4 linked regions of the Homo sapiens genome follow. The protein of the gene in region 1 interacts with the protein of each later gene in a pairwise test. Each region holds a gene or a part of one and is shown on either strand. Other genes may lie near its edges.

Region 1 (4,711 bases):
AGTAGAAAATATATCTTCATGAATGCCAGTTACTCCCATTTTTCTTTCAATGGCATATATTCACGTTTGTTCAAGGAAAAGCCTAAGAAAATGATTGCTTTTATTTTTTAGGATATTGCATGTCATTATCATAACCACCATTCTCATTGAGAGAGAATATGCCTCATTTTTTTGTTTTTGTTCTTCTGGAGATCCCTCTTGTGGACAGTATCTTCCCTTTTCCTTTTTTTATTTATGTTCTACCTTCCTCCCTTTTAAGTGCCAGCTGAGGCACTTGGGGGAAGATAGAATAAAACAAGGTACATTACTTGTTTCAGATATTTCCAGTTAAAATTGTTTGAACACTTGCCCCATAGATGATGCTGAATAATCCCCTATTTGCTGGAAATCCTCAGCTTCAAGAACAAATGAGACAACAGCTCCCAACTTTCCTCCAACAAGTGAGTAAGACAAGATGTTAGCTATCTTGGGTAATGATTTGCTTGAAAAAATTTGATGATAAACATTTTTCCTTGCTCTTCTCTGGCTGATAGCAAAACATAGAATAGAGACCAATAATGCTGTCAATTCGTAGAGAATTCAGCTTGATCTTCACTGAGTCCCATTTCACTGCTGACCTTTTGCTTATGTTTCTTAAACATACATTCTGAGGAAAGAACATTTTGTTTTTGCTTTTGAGGACCTAGGATTTTGAATGCTTTGTTAATACCATAAACCATTTCCTTTCATTGTACTAACTTTGAAGTGCTTCCTTGTGTCATGTTACGCTTTATGGTTTAACTAATTTTGAGTAACAGGAAAGAGCTACCCTATTCTATTTTATAGGTTTTCTTCCAAATTAGTAGAAGGCTTTTTTTCCCCAAGGGGTAGATCTCATTTCCTCAAACTCGGGATTAGTAAGATTAAAATAGTCAGTGTTGTCATATAAGGAAGTAAGGAAGGTTATAGTATAAACGAGTACTTGAGATTGCCATGGTATTTTATTATTTAAAACGACAAAAGAGAAGTCAGTCTTGGTGTTTTGAAACTGGTAGTTCTAGGGCCTCATGTATTATGCAAATGACTCTCAGACCTGTAAACCATTTTCCAAGGTTGGTGTCCTTGATCTATTGTAATGATGTAAGCCTATCTTTGGTTAGTCAGGTGGTGTATATTTGGAAGTAGTAAAGCTAAACTCAGGATACATGTATTAACGTCAAATTTGGAACTGTTGTTTTAGAGTGTACCTTACTGGTAAAATTGTTATATTAGTAACAGATAACACTTGGTTAGGTGGAATATGTGGCTTTTTACCATATCCACGTCGTAAGAATTGTGCCTTTGGAGGTTGTGTCTTAGAAGTAATACTTTATCTTCTGTTGGAGAAGGGGAATAGTTGTGGCTTCCAAAGTAGCTCCTGATTTTCTTCCATTATGGAAATGGCTTTCATGATGGACTTAGGAGGAGGTCAAGTAATAATTTGCACACTAGGTTTGCTGTCAAAGAGGAGATACTTGCGTTTATTTTGGGAAAGAAATTATGGATTACCAGTGTCCAGGAGTAAGGTTTTAGATTTTCTCCAGAAGCATAACAGAGAAAAGATTTAAAAATTTACGTTCACTGATTTTAATTCCTTTGTAACCACTAGTTTTCTTTCTTCCTTAGATGCAGAATCCTGATACACTATCAGCAATGTCAAACCCTAGAGCAATGCAGGCCTTGTTACAGATTCAGCAGGGTTTACAGACATTAGCAACGGAAGCCCCGGGCCTCATCCCAGGGTAGGCTTATTTGGGGAAGATAATGAAAGTGTATAATGGTTACTTTCTCTGAGAATTTCAGATTTAGTATTATTCTGCCTGCCTTTTTTTTTTTTTTTTTTTTTTTGGTGGGATACAGGGTCTCGCCCTTCGCCTAGGCTATGAGTGTGGGGGCGCAGTTGTGGCTCACTGCAGCCTCGACCTCTCGGGCTCAAGGGATTCTCTCACCTCAGCCTCCCAAGTAGCTGGGACTACAGGTGTGCACCACCACACCTAGCTAATTTATATATATAATTTGTTGTTGTTACTGTTTTTAGAGATGGAGCTTTGCCATGTTATCCAGGCTGGTCTCAAACTTCTGGGCTCAAGAGATTTGGCCTCCCAAAGTGGGATCAGAGACATGAGCCATAGCACCTGGTTCTCCCCCACCGTTTTTATTTATTTATTTACTTATTTATTTATTAAGAGATCGGTTTTTGCTCTTTTACCCTGGCTGAACTTGAACTTCTAAGCTCAGGTGATCCTCCCACCTCAGCCTCCCCAGTAGTTGGGACACAGTGCCTGGCTATGATTGTTTTTAAGTCAGGGTTTTCAAAGTTAAAAATGATTATTATTATTTTTTAAATTCCTTTTAGAGATAGTCTCACTCCATCGAGCAGACTGGAGTGCAGTGGCGCGATCTCAGCTCACTTCAGCCTCTACCTCCTGGGCTAAAGCAATCCTCTTACCTCAGCCTGCCAAGTAACTGATACTACAGGTGTGCACCAGCACACCCAGCTAATTTTGTTTTTATTTTTTGTAGAGATGAAGTCTCAACAATGTTGCCTAAGCTGATCTCAAATTCCTGGGCTGCTGGGATCATCGGTCTCCCAGAATGAGCCACTGCACCAGGCCAAAAGGGCTTATTTTAAGAAGATGGCTTAGCTTATATTAAAATGTAACTGATTTACGGACTGGCTTCTGGTTTTGCAGGACCTTAGGATATTTCCTATTTGTGCTTTCTGTAGGTTTACTCCTGGCTTGGGGGCATTAGGAAGCACTGGAGGCTCTTCGGGAACTAATGGATCTAACGCCACACCTAGTGAAAACACAAGTCCCACAGCAGGAACCACTGAACCTGGACATCAGCAGTTTATTCAGCAGATGCTGCAGGCTCTTGCTGGAGTAAATCCTCAGGTATCAGTTCTTTTCCATTCAAGTTTTGTATTCCTTAATGTTGGAAATTTAGAAATTTCCAAAAAGAAGGAAAAAGGGAGAAAAAAGGAAAGCAGTAGTTCTTAGGTGTTTAGATTAATGAAAAATACAGTCTTAAGGATATTGAGTAAGAAAACAGGCATTACAAAAATTGTTGACTTTGGTGCTGAGACACTAAAGGAAACGTTGTTACGGTTGTAGAGAAGACATGCTACAACCTAAAGTCTTATTTTTTAGAAATTGCCTTTAAAAATGCATTTTTTTTGTTCCTATTTGAAAATCATTTGAAATAGATTTTGCTTTAAAAAAGTTCTTAGGGAGGAATGGAAACTTGATTATCCCAAGTACCTCCAGGGCAGCTGTATTCTAGTCTGTCTTTTGACTGGAAAAAAGTCCTAACTACCTTAACTCCACCCATGACACCACCTCCTGCGGTAGCTTGTGTTACATATATATATATCTCGTAAATATGGCTAAAGAATATGGACCCCCTAATAATGTGGTTGCATCTACAAACATACATTGGTTTTACTAATAATGTGCCATTATATAAAGATGATCGCCAGTTTAAACCTGTTTTATTAGGTTGTCCCCAAACTTCTTAATGTCTCAAGGTCTGTTAGGTGCTTTCTGTTTTCTTTTCTGGGTTTCTTTTTTCTTTCCCTTTCTCCTTTCCCCTTTCCTTTTCCTCCTTCCTCTTCCCCTTTCCCTTTTCCCTTTCCTCTTCCCCTTCCCCCTTTCCCCTTTTTCCTCTTTCCCCTCTTTGCCTTTCCCTTTTTTTTTTTTCTTTCCCTTTCCCTTTTGACAAAGTGCCCAGGCTGGATGCAATCACAGCTCACTGCGACCTGCACCTCCTGGGCTGCAGCAATCCTCCCACCTTAGCCTCTGGAGTAGCTGGGATTACAGGCGCAGACCACCACACCTGGCTAATTTTTGTATTTTTTGTAGAGCTGGGGTTTCAACCGTGTTGCCCAGGTTGGTCTCAAACTCCTGAGCTCAAGCGATCTCACCCGCCTTGGCCTCCCAAAGTGCTGGGATTACAGGCGTGAGCCTGGCCTGCTTTCTGTTTTCAAGCCTTACTAAATATAATAAATAGGGTAGGGTTCTGTCTCATACATATCTGTATTCCTGATAAGCTAGCGTAGCATAGTTTCTGGCTCTTGGTAGGTACTCAGTAAATATTCATGGAATAAATAAGAAAGAAGGATTTGGAGTATTAGAATTAATTGTGACATAAGTTAACTTACAAGCCTCCAAATTATCAGGTAGGCCTAGGATTGATTGGTCATTTATATGGAGATTTTTTTTTTTAACTTCATTTCTGAAGAAAAGATTTGATGCTGCTGAAATGTCAGAATTAAGAGTATAATTTTGGGCCTGAAACTGAAGCTCTTTTCTAAGAATTGACTGTCCAGTGCAAAAATTAAACTCACATTCATTCGAAGAATCATTGAAGCTTTAGAATTTTATACATGAGGATACCAGCTTTTATAGTTACTCAATTGGTCAGTAGCTACACAAATCATCTAATTCTGAACTATCTGTGTGTGTGTGTGTGTGTGTGTGTGTGTGTGTGTGTGTGTATATGTATATGTATATACACACACACATACAGGTTTTTCTGCATGTACGTGATCCTCTAAAATAATGGTTGATGTTTATTAAGCTTTTCTCCCCCTCCCCTAAAGTAGAGTCGTGATCTATTTGACATGATTATTTAGGTACAAACTAGACTATTTAAAATAAACTGCTAATGGACTTTTAAATATGTTGGATAA
Region 2 (4,665 bases), on another chromosome or scaffold:
CTAACACATTGTAGGTATGCAATAAATGTTTATACATACTGAATAACAGGATTTTAATCACAGCTTTTAACTATATGGTGCCCTGGGAATGACGGGAGGAGGTGGAGGAGAGTGACCACCTTAAGCAGATTGGTTCTCAGAGTAGATATCTGTGAGACACAGTAGACATTAGACATGCACTAATAATTGGAGAAGGAAAAAAGCTTCTCCTTCCAAAAGCCAGTAGACTACAGGAGGAGATAGACACGAGTAACTTTAGTGTATTGTGCTGGGTATTATGTTAGATAGCCTATGGGAGCCTAGAGAATGGGTACCCAGCTGGGTGCGGTGGTTCACGCCTGTAATCCCAGCACTTTGGGAGGCTGAAGCAGGTGGATCACCTGAGGTCAGGAGTTCAAGACCAGCCTGGCCAACATGGTAAAACCCCGTCTCTACTAAACATACAAAAATTAGCCGGGTGTGGTGGCGGGCACCTGTAATCCCAGCTACTCAGGAGGCTGAGGCAGGAGAATTGCTTGAACCCAGGAGGTGGAGGTTGCAGTGAGTGGAGATCGTGCCACCACACTCCAGCCTGGGTGACAGAGCGAGACTCCGTCTCAAAAAAAAAAAAAAAAAAAGAGAGAGAATGGGCTCCCAGCTGAGGCTGGACCCATGCAATACATTGCTCACCGTAGTTAATAATAAATGCCTACAGTGCCCCCGAAAGCTTCCCTGAAACAACCCATTGCGGCCATCCAGAATCAGCCAAAATTCTATTTGGACTTGGGCTTCCTAGATGTGTTTGAGACCTATTGTATTAATTCTAGGCATACCAAATGTATTTTGATCATATCTCTTTAATACTCTTCCTGTCTTAACAAGACTAAGATAAAGACAAAGATCTTTTATTTTACTTTGGTAGCCTCCAGGGTGCAGAATAGTTAAAGACACCTCCCTCTCTCTCTTCAGCATTTGGCCAAGAGACGAATGTCCCTTTGAACAACTTCAGTGCTGATCAGGTAACCAGAGCCCTGGAGAACGTTCTAAGTGGTAAAGCCTGAAGCCTCCACTGAGGATTAAGAGCAACAGCCCCAGAGCCTGGGCTCTGCTGGACTTAGTATAATGTGAAAAAAATGTGTTCTCCTATTCCTCATAAAGCTTGTGCTGTAAAATACTTTCTCAGGGTGTTCTTGTCCTCATCTACCCTCTACCCCTTACTGTGCAACCACTGAGGCAAAGTAGCTTAATATAAAAATAAAACTTTATTCTGTCTCATCAAAAGCTACCAGCTGCTGAAGCAAACATGAAGGGTGGCGGGGGGGCAGGGATTCTAGGGCCCCAGAGTAAGTAGACCACACTGAGTCCCTTTTGGTCCTCCTGCCTGGATAGTGCTGAGTGGAAGGGGAGGAGCTGGGACCCAAAGGTCTTGGCTTAGGTGTGGGAGCAGAGAACATGAGACCTCATTATGGTCCTAAATCTCCAAAGGCTCTACTGGACAAACAAGCTTGATGTTAAGAGAGAGGGGAATGAGTGACATTGAGAAACAAGATCACCCTTGAAGAGCTGTCTGCTGGAGAGCATACACACGATCCTGGAGCTGGGCCTCTTCCTGATGCCTTTCCAGGGCTTGCAGCCCTGACTGCTGCAGGAAGACCTGAACAGCCTAGGGGCAGGGAAGAAAATTCAACACACCTGGTCTCTGTGTCCTAAGACTCAATTCCCACAGCCTCATGGGTCAGCCTACTCCAGAGGGTGCATTCCCCAACAAGAGGATGAAGTTTCTGACATGGAACCTATATAGGTTAGCCAGGCCCAGAGAAACAACTATAGTTAGGACTGGATGGGAAGGGAGCCACTGTGTGGCTTCAGAACAGGGGTGACTGAGGATGTGGGCCAGAAACCTATACCTCTGGCTGATACAGGAACAGCAGATGCAGCAGCTCCAAACTCTGGCCTACTACTTCAGTGTCAGAAAAGGCTAGTGTGTGCAGCAAGGCGGGAAGCAGGGGCCCTGGCCACAGCCGCTGGCAGTAAGCAGGACCCTTTTCTGCAACATTGCACAGAACTGTGAGCACCTGCAGATAGACACATATATAGTCTACAAAGAATGAAACACAAAGATCATAACAATAGCTAAAATATATGACATGGTGACCACATGCCCAGGCACCATGCCAAGCTCTTCTACATACATGTTCTCATACTCCTACAACTACCCTATGATGCAAGATTATCCTCAGTTATAAGTGAGGAGACTGAAGCTTAAGGTGGTTAGTTGATTTGTCCAAGGATAAATAATCCAGTTTAAGGGACACACACCTAGATTGGTTGGGCCCTGAGGCCACACACCACCACCTGCTGGCTCTCAACTAAGGGTACATCTGAGGGCTCAGGACTGCTGTCCCATACAATCCGACTACCAGATCTTGGATTCAAGTAACCCCAATACATACCATTACGCTCACCACGTTAGATACTGGCAACAGCTGTAAGAGAGGCTCAATCAGATCCAGGGAGAGCAAGGAGGTACAGAAACTAGGACTGTTTGCTGGAAGAGAAGTACCAGGGTGAAAAACTGCTTTCCCCCACCACCCCTGTCAATACTACCCACCTCAGCCTAGGCCATGAGGAAATATCCCCATTATCCAAATGTCCAGGCCTGGGCAGATTATGGTGCGTACCAGTGAGGTTGTTGAGGAGCCAAAGGCCCTCAGGGAGCAGACTGGGCTGTTTCTGGAAAAAGAACTGCAGAAGGATAAATAAGGCTGCCACAACACGCTCATCTCTGAGCTGCATTTGCCCTCCCACAGTCTCCACTGCTGCCTCAGTTAGCAGGTTGCTTAGACATCGAAGCACGGGGCATGCCAGCTGCAAAGACAAATTGGGGGGTCAGGTGTAAGAAGGAAGAGGTTACCTGCATTCCAGAGTATCAAGAAACATCTCCCAGAATTTCACCTGACATCTTCACCTACCAGCTCCAGTCCTGCATCCTCGGTTTTCTGGACAGCCCCAGCCAAGTCCAACAGCAGCAACCCCAGAGTAGACAGAGCCCCATGGCCAATGAGCAGAGGATTGCTGACCTGGCTGGGCAACAGGAAGCAAGCAGTCCCTAGGTATATAGTCAATTCCACCTTTAAGAAGAGAAGCAGTTGCCTAGGCGTGGTGGCTTATGCCTGTAATCCCAGCACTTTGGGAGGCTGAGGTGGGTGGATCACCTGAGGTCAGGAGTTTGAGACCAGCCTGGCCAACATGGCGAAACTCCGTCTCTATTAGAAATACAAAAATTAGCCGGGCATAGTGGCACGCATCTGTAGTCTCAGCTACTCAGGAGGCTGAGGCAGGAGAATCGCTTGAACCCGGGAGGCAGAGGTTGCAGTGAGCTGAGATCGCACCACTGTACTCCATCCAGCCTGGGTGACAGAGTGAGACTGTCTCAAAAAAAAAGAGAAACAGCTAAGGTCTGTGGGTCTCCTGGGCTCCAAAAAGAGAAGACAGTGGAGGGAGGAAAACTCACTATAGCAATTCCAGACACAAGTTCAAAGAGTTGAATGTCATGGAAGGGAGCCCCAGGGAAGATCTGTGGTACTTTCCCAATTGCCCTGTTACCTGCAGATGATGTAATGAAGGCACCAGGCAAACTCCACAGCGACCCCAGGGTTGAGCTTTGGGCCAGGTTGCAACATTTGTAGCATGTGCTGAGGGAGAGTGGAGGCCAAGATGGAGCTGCTGGCAGAAGCAGGGCTGTAAGTAGGAACCACGAAGATGCCAGTGGTTCTTACCAAACCCTGATAGCAGGTGGGAGAGTGTCCAAACCCAAAGCCCTGCCCAGATGGGAAAGTGTCCAAACCCAAAGCCCTTCCTAGCCAGACACATGAATTTAAAATGTGCAACAGCTTTGGAAATCATTCAGGCATCCGGGAGCTATACTACTGAGTGGGTCACCTCTGGCTGCACATCTAAAGACAATTTTACTCACGGAATGATCTTCTCTGGAGCTTCCTCAGCCTGTAGAAGCTGGGACAAGGCATATCCGAGAGCTTCCAGCACAGCCACATGGGGGGACTGGAAGTAGACAGGGTAAGGATCTGACTGGAAGCTGGGTCATCAGGTCTTCAGAGACTTTCAGCCCCTTGGCACAGGGCAGAGGCTGGAGCTACCTAACCAAAGTAGATGGAGCATGTGGGGAGGAGCAAAGGAAGGGTTGCCCAGGGAGGAAGAAAGGAGTCACCTGGATGCAGGCAGCCAAGGCTGGAACAATGCCCTGTGGCAGGAGCTGCCTTCTCACAGCCTCACTCTCCACGATCAGGTTACCCAGTGTATACAGACACAGCTCCTGAGAACAGGCAACAAAAGCACTGGGCTTGGCCTGTTTCATGCCAGGCTGCGTGTGGGGAGATGGGGAGGGGAGGTGATGGGGACGCTGGAGCAGCTATCCTTGCGGCTCACAAGAGGGTGGGGAGATGATGGGTGTAGCCATGGCTGTAGGCATAAGGGCAAACATGTTTTCTTCCTCCTACCTGCCAGCTCAAACTGGTCCCAAAAGCACAATTTTAAAATCTAAACCAAGAACAAGATAGGAAGGGACAGGGCTTACTATGAAGTCTGAGCTGTGACTGGAGAGGTAGGTGAGGAGGTAAGAAGTGGCTGGCAGGCAGGCCTCAGCAACAGTGGACTGCTCGGAGTGAG
Region 3 (5,362 bases), on another chromosome or scaffold:
ACTACAGTTAATAACAATGTATTACATTATTGGACATTGCTAATCCAGGTGATTCTAAGCGTTCTCACCACAAAAAAATGATTCGCACAGGAGGAATGCCTACGTTGCCTAGCTCGATGTAGCCATTCCTCGCTGTGTGCAGAGTCCACAACGTCATATTGGACATGACAAATACATGCAATTTTCATCGGTCAATTTTAAACTGAATTAATTAACTTTTAAAAATCAGACCAGGCGCGGTGTCTCACACCTGTAATCCCAGTACTTTGGGAGGCCGAGGTGGGCGGCTCACCTGAGGTCAGGAGTTCGAGACCAGCCTGATCAACATGGTGAATCCCCGTCTCTACTAAAAATACAAAAACATCAGCCAGGCATGGTGGCAGGCACCTGTAATCCTAGCTACCTGGGAGGTTGAGGCAGGGAGAATTGCTTCAACCAGGGAGGCAGAGGTTGCAGTAAGCCAAGACCGAGCCATTGCACTCCAGCCTGGGCAACAAGAATGAAACACCATCTCAAAAAAAAAAAAAAAAATCAGCATGTGAGAAGAACCACCATGTTGAGCGGCATATGGAGTGTTTGAGAAAGCGAAAGAACCTGGAGGAATGTAGAGATGAGTGAGCCCCAGGTCACAGGGACAGGATGTGGCTGGGAAAATGGGCATGTCCAGAACAAAGAGAGGTGCCTGGGTTGATTCTATCTGAAGATAAACAGGGGAAGGGCTCTAAGAAAAAAACTTCATCTTACGATGAGATATTAAATGAAAATTTTTGAATGCAATTTAAAAACTGTGGAAAGTACAATGGTCATGGTTGTGCTTTTGCAAATCGCCAGTCCCTGGGGTCAGGAAGGGAGCAGGCAGCAGTGGCATGGACAGGCTGAGGCCGGCCTCGGGGAGCCACGGAGGGGAGAAGGGCTGTCACCTGGGGGTGATGCAGGAAAAGTCGATGAAGAGAGAGGGAAAGATGAGAAAAATTTAGAGTGAAATCACCAGGACTGGGTGACATGGTGCATCCAGGAGGATGGAGAAGAGGATGAGTGTTCAGAGTCTGCCCTTTGTGACTGTCACGTTCCCCGCCAAGAAGCTGCCGAGTGAAGTGTGGGCTCGTCTGGGGAAAAGTGCCGGGTTCAGCCTTGGTTGTGTTGGGTTTGAATTCTCATTGTGGAAATCGGTGTGTGGAGGTGATGCCTGCACTCCCAGGGTGACCGCAGCGCTACTCACAGCTGCCAAGACCTGGAAATAACCTGAGTTATATAACCACCACCAAATGAATGGATGAGGAGAATGTGGTGTATATATGCAATGGAATATTATTCAGCCCTAAAAAAGGAAGGACATTCTGTCATTCACAACAGCATGGATGAACCAGAGGACATTATGCTAAGTGAAATAAGCTGGGTACAGAAAGACAAATACCGCATGTGGAATCTAAAAAAGTTCATCTCGGCCGGGTGCAGTGGCTCATACCTGTAATCCCAGCACTTTGTGTGGCCGAGGTGGGTGGATCACCTGAGGTCAGGAGTTCAAGACCAGCCTGGCCAACATGGTGAAACCCCATCTCTACTAAAAACACAAAAATTAGCTGGGCGTGGTGGCATGCACCTGTAATCCCAGCTACTCGAGAGGCTGAGGCAGGAGAATCGCTTGAACTTGAGAAGTTGAGTTTGCGGTGAACCGAGATTGTGCCATTGCACTCCAGCCTGGGTGACAGAGTGAGACTCCATCCCAAAACAAACAAACAAACAAAAAAGGTCATCTCACAGAGTTAGAGATTAGAATGATGCTATTAAAGTCGGGAAATGGGGGGCTTGGGAGAGACACTGATCAAATGGTACAAAGTTTCGGTTAAACAGGAGGAGTAAGTTTTTGAGATCTATTGCATAGCAGGCTGACTATAGTTAATAATAACTTATTATATATTTCAAAATTGCTAAAAGTAGGTTTTAAATGTTCTCATCACAATAAGTATGTGATGTGATTGATATGTTATTTAGCCTTATTTAATCTTTCCACAATGTTTACATACGTTGTAACATCACATCGTGCCCCACAAACATATACAATTATTTGTCGATTAAAAATAAGATTTTTGGCTGGGCACAGTGGCTCATGCCTGTAATCCCAGCACTGTGGGAGGCTGAGGCGGGCGGATCATAAGGTAAGGAGTTCGAGACCAGCCTGGCCAATATGGTGAAACCCCATCTCTTCTAAAAATACAAAAAAAAAAAAAATTAGCCAGGGGTGGTGGTGGGTGCCTGTAATCCCAGCTACTCAGGAGGCCGAGGCAGGAGAATCGCTTGAAACTGGGAGCAGAGGTTGCAGTGAGCCGAGATTATGCCACTGCATTCTAGCCTGGGTGATGGAGTGAGACTCCATCTCAAAAATAAAAATAAAATAAAATATAGGATTTTTGAAAATAAGAAAAGCAAAACATGACAGGTGGAGAATGAAGGAGAGAAAGGGGTGAGGGTTATGCATTTTACATTTGGAATAGTTTGCAATCTAGGGTATATTTAAAGGGATCTCTCCAGGCCCTCTAAGAATCAACATCACTCCCACCCAGCACTGCCTTTGGGGTGACAGAGGGGACTGGGAAGACGGGACGAAGGCATGACTTACCCTCCTGCGTGTGGATGGTCTGGGCCAGGCAGAGCACTGGAAGAGAAGCCCCAGTGAGAAAAATGCCCACTGCCCAGTCTCCTTACAGGGCTGCTGTCAAAAGGGGGCTTGACGGAGCTGGGGGGCATTCAGCATTTCATAACGACCAAGCCAACCCTCCTCGACATCACTGTCTCCATGTAATCCTTCTTGCTGCAAAATGGTTTCAAGATAAATCCCAAAGTCTCCTCTTCCAAAAAGGCTCCTGCTCCCCCAGCCCTTCTTTTTGGTGTTGTTGGAGACGGAGTTTTGTTCTTGTCGCCCACGCTAGAGTGCAGTGGCGCGATCTTAGCTCACTGCAACCTCCACCTCCCGGGTTCAAGCAATTCTCCTGCCTCAGCCTCCCGAGTAGCTGGGATTACAGGTGCCCGCCACCATGCCCGGCTAATTTTTGTATTAGTAGAGATGGAGTTTCACCACGTTGGCCAGGCTGGTCTCAAACTCCTGACCTCAGGTGATCCACCTGCCTCAGCCTCCCAAAGTGCTAGGATTACAGGTGTGAGCACCGCGCCTGGCCCCCCAGCCCTTCTTAAAGCTGACCTCATCCCCACACCCGGGCCCCTGTTTTTAGGACAAGGTTGTCTCTGATCAGACTTAGGCCCCAGGGAGAGCAGTAGGGCAGTCTTGGGGGGAGGAGGACACTTTCCTCCCCAGAATCTTCTGGACTAGAGTCAGGCTTGAGCAGGGAACTTTCCAGACCTCCCGACCCCCTTTCCAGTCCTTCCCGCTCCCTCCAGGACTCACCTAGGCCCAGGAGAGCAGTGAGGTGTGGAGACATGGCCCCGGTCCCAGAACTCTGCAGCAGACACAAGCAGACAGGATGTGCTGGCCGGGGGCCTCCTGCCCGTGGGGCTTCCACAGCAACTGCCTCACACAAGAGGGAGAGCTTTCTGTTCTGTTCTTTCCACCCTTCCCACTAGTGAGATGAGAGGGAGGGCCTTGGTTTCTGAAAAATGTCGCTTACCCGCATGATCAGATGACCTTAAACTAGTTACCCGATGTGTCAGCCTCTTTCTAAATCTATGGGACAAGACAGAATAAAGGTCGTGCAACCAACTGACTTGGATGTCATCCCAACTCCACACGTTAACGACCACCGCTCTTGGGCAAGATGTTACAAAACTAGAAGTCGACATGTCCTCGTATTTAAAATAAGAGTCATAGAAATCCTTCCCCAAGTTTTTAATATTGTGATCTCTGCTAAAATCTCAGCAAGGTATATAATGCATTAAAAAAGATCCTACAGTGCGCCGGGCGCGGTGGCTCACGCCTGTGATCCCAGCACTTTGGGAGGCTGAAAAATTGTGCACTCACTATAGAGAACAGTGGGGAGGTTCCTCAAAAAACTAAACATAGAGCTACCGTATGGTCCAACAATGCCACTTCTGGGTCTATATTTAAAAGAAACAAATTCAGTATGCAAAGAGCCGTCTGAACTCCCCTGATCACTGCAGCACTATTCGCAATAGCTAAGACGTGAAAATCATCTAAATGTCCATTGATAGAAGAATTGATATAGAAAATGTGGTGCACACACAGGGGAATACTATTCAGCCTTAAACAAGGAAGAAAATTCTGCCATGGGCGACAACACAGACGAAACCTGAGGACATCACGCCAAGCGACGCAGATGCAGAGACCAAGTACTGCATGATGTCACTTACAGGAGATCTGCAAAGTCACCAGAGTCACAACATCACAGCAGGGAATGGTGGTTACGGGGGCTGGGAGGAGGGGGAAATGGGGAGTTATTAACAAACAGGCCTAGAGATCTGCTGCACCACATACGACCCATCGTCAGCAATAACGTCTTGTTCACTTGAAATTTGTTAAGAGGACAGAGCTCATGTTAAGTGTTCTAACAATGATACATAATAATAAATATTATATATAAATAATTATAATTATTACATCTAATAATAATATAATTAATATAATATTATTAGTTAAAATTGTTTATCTATTTTATACAGTCATTACATATATAATTGTTTATATATAATAATACAGCAAATACTATATATATGCAAGTTTATATATAATTGTTAATATATATAAACTATTATAATTATACATATACAATTAACAATTTGTGTGTGTGTGTGTGTGTGTGTATGTGTGTGTGGAGATGGAGTCGTACTCTGTTGCCCAGGCTGGAGTGCAGTGGTGCAATCTTGGCTCACTGCAACCTCCGCCTCCCAGGCTCAAGCAATTCTCTTGCCTCAGCCTGCTGAGTAGCCGGGACTACAGGCGCACGCCACCATGCCCGGCTAATTTTTGTATTTTAGTAGAGACGGGGTTTCACCATGTTGGCCAGGCTGGTCTTGAACTCCTGACCTCATGTGATCTGCCCGTCTCAGCCTCCCAAAGTGCTGTGATTACAGGTGTGAGCCACCGCGCCCGGCCCCATTAACAATGTTGTAATTATATATATTATGTATAATACACACACACATTCACACACACACACACACACACACACACACACACTCTACTAGCATAAGTTCTCTTCCCCTCCTCCTACAGTGTCATTTGGCTCCAGGTGGGAGTGAGGTGGTCCAACAGCACATGCAAAATCCCGAAGGGGTTGAAGGGTCAGGAGACAGTGCTTAGAACCTCGCGTTGAGGTCTGGGGTCAGATGGGCACTCAGCCGGGTGTGGAATGAGGAGCAGGACCAGGACCAGCAGTGCATTTCGGCATCACGG
Region 4 (4,711 bases), on another chromosome or scaffold:
TGATCCTCCTGCCCCAGCCTCCCATGTAGCTGGGACTACAGGCGTGCACCACCACGCCCAGCAAATTTTAAAAAATATTTTTGTAGAGACCTACTTCTGTAATTTTTAATAATACATGCTTACGTCTCTTCTAGCCAGAGATGCTCTGAGATAATTTTTGAAAAAATAAGACTTAAATAGGTAGAAAGGTCAGGTGTGGTGGCTCATGTCTGTAATCTCAGCACTTTGGGAGGCCAAGGCGGGCAGATCACTTGAGGTCAGGCCTTCGACACCAGCCTGGCTAACATGGTGAAACCCAACTCTACTAAAAATACAAAAATTAGCCAAGTGTGGTAGCAAGCACCTGTTGTCCCAGCTACTAGGGAGGCTGAGGCAGGAGAATTGCTTGAACCTGGGAGGCGGAGGCTGCAGTGAGCCGAGATCACGCTACTGCACTCCAGCCTGGGCGACAGGGCGAGACTCCATCTCAAAAAAAAAAAAAGGGTAGAAATGAGGGAGGGTGACAGAAAGAACACATTTCAGAGGTAGGAAAGAGCAAGAATCAAGATCCATGACACAGAGGCACCAAGCAGGGAGAAAGGCCAGTTAAGAGAGAAGGCTACATAAAAAAGAATAAAATCATATCCTTTGTGGCAACATGGATGCAGCTAGGGGTCATTATCCTAAGCAAATTAATGCAAGAAGAGAAAACCAAACACTACATGTTCTCACTTGCAGAGTGAACTGGGAGCTACACATGGACACAAAGAGGGGAACAAGAGACACCAGGGCTTGAGGGTGGAGAGTGGGAGGCTGGTGAGGATTGAAAAACTACCCATCTAGTACTATGCTCACTACCTAGGTGACAAAATCATTTGTACACCAAACCTCAGCAATGTGCAATTTGCCCGTGTACCAAACCTGCACATGTATCCCCTGAACCTAAAACAAGAATTGGAAGGAAATGAGAGACAGAAGACTACAAAGGATCTTAAAGTTTAAGCATTATGAAAAAGAGCCAGAATTCTATCACTCCACCCCACCCCCCCAATAATTATTAGGGCAGTTTCAGAACTCCTGAAAGATACAAAGAACAAGATGGATTAGGAGGGACCTAGAGCAAATCCTAACAGGAGGGAGCTCAATTCACAGGGTTTACAATAAGGCAAGCAATAAATCCTGAAATTTGGGAAATCTCAAAGAGTAAAAGACAGATAAGGATTCCAGGAGAGGTAAGGAATTCGGATTTAGGATACTGCAGGCATTTACAATACTGCAGTCCTGAAATGTTGAAGTCTCCAAGAGCAACAAACAGACAACAAACAACAAACAGATAAGGATTCCAAGTCACACCTGGTTAGAATCTGCATCCTGCCCTGGGCACGGGAACAAAGGAATAGGAGATTTCAAGCCTGAGTAACCGAGTCATCTGGGATTTTATCGCAGAAGAAAGAAACTGAAGGAGGGTGGTAAGAGTAGAATGAGAGAATTCAGATTTGAGACAAAGTCAGTTTGTGTGGACTGAAGGGCATGCACCTAGGAATGTCTTGTAGACCACTGAAACCACAGGACTAGCCAGGCATGGACTGTGGAGATATGGCTCTGAGAGTTGCCCACTCAGGGGTTCGGTGTCAATGGCAGACATCCTCTCCACATCAGAGACCCAGGGGCAGAGAGTGTTGCCCGTAAATCCCAAGTCCCAGGAACTCTCAAAACCTCAGCAAAGTCTTTACAGAGAAGCCCCAAGCTGGCCCTATGGAGACCTTAATACAAAGGAGCTTCTGCCAAAGACAACAAATCAAAAAGATGTCTGACTTTGGTAGGACAGGTCAGGTCCTTCCACACAGACAGCAGTGCTCATGAGAACCACAGTGTGGCATGAGGCTGTCCCTGGGGAGAGGCAGGCGGGAGAAAGGAAACTTCACAGAATACCCTTTGCTGCCTACAAATTCTGCACCACAGACTGCCTACTCAAAATAACACCATAAAGTTTAACTTTCTTCAAAAGGTCAGTCAACTTAGTGGGCTCAATGCCATCCCTACTGTTGGGGCAAACAACATGAGAACAAATATCAGTGACTGGCATAGGAAGCTGCCCGGTGGGGACCATACGTGGGGGTGGGGAGGGGGTGCCTCACTATTACCCCAGCCAAGTAACCACCACATGACAAGACTTGGAAGGCAGGAACCCTGCCCAGTGCCAGGAACAAATTAGCATTCTTTCAAGGAGACTTTGGCAAAATTAATAGTGAAGAGTCAGTGTCCGTCTCTTTTCTGAACCAGAGGCAGTATGACACACAAACAGCTGTACTTTTTCACCCCCAACAGCCTCTAGTGCCAGTCCAGAAGGGCTGGGAGACCTTAACAACATAGAATGTAGCTTAACAAACTGTGGAGAGGAATCTCCTCCACCTACGTGGATCCTAGAAAAGATGGAAAAGTGTGAAAACCAGAAACAGTAACACTCAAATCTTTTCAAACAGTTTAAAGGATGATTATCTGCCCTGTGAAATTAGTTACAATGGCCGGGCACGGTGGCTCACGCTGTACCAGCCCTTTGAGAGGCCGAGGCGAGAAGATCGCTTGAACCCAGGAGTTCAATGGTCAACATTTTAAGACCCTGTCTCTATTATAAAATAAGTATGTATATATTTATATATATAAATTCAAAAAAGAAATTAGTTACAAGATTCATTTTAAAAAGAGTTTCTCAAATATATTCAAGATTATATAATTTCTGGCAGTTGTAAGGTTGAGAATAAAGTGAGGGAGGAGAAATGCTTTACATTAGTAGGACAGTGCAGGTTTTATACAATCTTCTTGTTTATCAAACATATTCTGAATGATTTTATCAAGTATTATGTTCCCATATCCATCAGCTGTTAGACTCTCATGCTCATTTTCTACCTTACCAATTTAAATATGCAGTCGGCTGGGTACGGTGGCTCATGCCTGTAATCCCAGCATTGTAGAAGGCCAAGGCAGGCAGATCACCTGAAGTCAGGAATTTGAGACCAGCCTGGCCAACATGGTGAAACCCTGTCTCTACTAAAAATATAAAAATTAGCTGGGTGTGATGGTGGGCGCCTGTAATCCCAGCTACTCGGGAGGCTGAGGCAGGAGAATCACTTGAACTCGGGAGGCAGAGGTTGCAGTGAGCTGAGATCACGCCATTGGACTCCAGCCTGGGCAACAAGAGAGAAACTCCATCTCAAAAAATAAATAGATAAATAAAAATAAAACTCTTAAATATTATTGATTTAAAAAAGATTGTATTATTTCTTTAAATCAGTAGGGAAAAAATTGATTATGTGGAGTCAAAACAGGCAATAAAATTCTGAATAATATCCTTATGAACACTGATAACACCAGCCCCTCTCAGAAATACAGACACCGTCCATAGCAGACCCTACAGTCAGTGAATGTTCTAAAGAGAAGCGTTGAATACTGAATGACTGCTTATTACTAGAACAAATGGTTCTCATGCTAACAGTCATTAACTGGAAAGCATTTCTTCCAAGCACCCTCACCCACTGCCTGGGTAAGGCGCCTTGTGGTCTTCAAGCACTGCGCCGGGAGTGCCTTTCAAGGATACCAGAGTGGCCACTCCCAGGAAAGTGCTCACAAATGTCTAAATCACAGTCATCCGATAACCAGGAAAACTGAAACTAATCAACTTTCTCTATAAAACACATACATTTTTTTCTGCAAAGAGTCTCCACATTTACTCTGAGACCTTTTTAACATTTAACATTTTGAAAGATTTATATAGTATTTTTTTGATTTTGTAGCCAAATAAGAAAAATAGGTAACATTTGGGTATCATATCTATCAATGTTAATCAATAAAGAAGCTTTTAAAGTCTGTAAATTAATTCTATGAGAAAAAAATAAAAAACAACAACCGGGAATTAGAAGACCTTCATAGGCCAGGCGCGGTGGCTCACGCCTGTAATCCCATCACTTTGGTAGGCCAAGGCGGGAGTATCACCTGAGGTCAGGAGTTCGAGACCAGCCTGACCAACATGGAGAAACCCCATCTCTACTAAAAATACAAAATTAGCTGGGCGTGGTGGCATGCCCGTAATCCCAGTTACTCAGGAGGCTGAGGCAGGAGAATTGCTTGAACCCAGGAGGCAGAGGTTGCGGTCAGCTGAGATTATACCATTACACTCCAGCCTGGGCCAACAACAGCGAAACTTCGTCTCAAAAAATAAATAAATAGAAGACCTTCATAATACGAACCATTCTGTATCTAACCAACTAAGTCATCTTGAGCTAATAACTTAAACTCTCTGAGCTGTGGCATCCTCTTCTATAAAATAACTACCTCAAGCCGGGTGCCATGGCTCAGGCCTGTAGTCCTGAGCTACTCAGGAGACTGAGGTAGGAGGATGGCTTGAGCTCAGGAGTTTAAAGCTGTAGTGAGCTATGACTGTGCCACTACACTCCAGCCTGGGCAACAAGGTGAGACCCTGTTCCTAAAAATAAAAAACACCTTTAAAGTCCCTTCTAGTCCTAACAACCAAGGAGAGCAATTTAACATTTTTTAAAGATGATAAAAATTCTTTTTTTTTGAGATGAAGTCTCGCTCTGTCCTCCTGGCTGGAGTGCAGTGGTGGGATCTCGGCTCACTGCAAGCTCCGCCTCCCGGGTTCACGCCATCACGCCATTCTCCTCAGCCTCCTGAGTAGCTGGGACTACGGGCGCCACCACACCCAGCTAATTTTTTT

Evidence for each region. Proteins that work in one complex are often made in the same cells at the same time.
Region 2: the proteins of UBQLN1 (region 1) and TMCO6 interact in binary tests that used the Homo sapiens proteins (3 or more experiments, as listed by UniProt).
Region 3: the proteins of UBQLN1 (region 1) and LAIR2 interact in binary tests that used the Homo sapiens proteins (3 or more experiments, as listed by UniProt).
Region 4: the proteins of UBQLN1 (region 1) and CDS2 interact in binary tests that used the Homo sapiens proteins (3 or more experiments, as listed by UniProt).

The regions. Positions count from the first base shown.
Region 1 is NC_000009.12:83,662,079-83,666,789, reverse strand, and holds part of UBQLN1 (ubiquilin-1), read left to right. Parts: intron 1-356; coding exon 357-440; intron 441-1,644; coding exon 1,645-1,760; intron 1,761-2,746; coding exon 2,747-2,915; intron 2,916-4,711. UniProt on the Homo sapiens protein: Plays an important role in the regulation of different protein degradation mechanisms and pathways including ubiquitin-proteasome system (UPS), autophagy and endoplasmic reticulum-associated protein degradation (ERAD) pathway.
Region 2 is NC_000005.10:140,641,962-140,646,626, reverse strand, and holds the end of TMCO6 (transmembrane and coiled-coil domain-containing protein 6), read right to left. Parts: coding exon 4,574-4,665; intron 4,313-4,573; coding exon 4,208-4,312; intron 4,137-4,207; exon of another isoform or gene 4,042-4,136; coding exon 3,956-4,041; intron 3,721-3,955; coding exon of another isoform or gene 3,703-3,720; coding exon 3,586-3,702; intron 3,064-3,585; coding exon 2,952-3,063; intron 2,848-2,951; coding exon 2,661-2,847; intron 2,528-2,660; coding exon 2,433-2,527; intron 2,055-2,432; coding exon 1,887-2,054; intron 1,643-1,886; coding exon 1,529-1,642; 3' UTR 1,223-1,528; downstream 1-1,222. Other genes in the region: NDUFA2 (NADH dehydrogenase [ubiquinone] 1 alpha subcomplex subunit 2), read left to right, coding at 949-1,040.
Region 3 is NC_000019.10:54,500,991-54,506,352, reverse strand, and holds the start of LAIR2 (leukocyte-associated immunoglobulin-like receptor 2 isoform a precursor), read right to left. Parts: upstream 3,523-5,362; 5' UTR 3,435-3,522; coding exon 3,401-3,434; intron 2,654-3,400; coding exon 2,618-2,653; intron 1-2,617.
Region 4 is NC_000020.11:5,133,019-5,137,729, reverse strand, and holds part of CDS2 (phosphatidate cytidylyltransferase 2), read right to left. Parts: intron 1-4,711. UniProt on the Homo sapiens protein: Catalyzes the conversion of phosphatidic acid (PA) to CDP-diacylglycerol (CDP-DAG), an essential intermediate in the synthesis of phosphatidylglycerol, cardiolipin and phosphatidylinositol.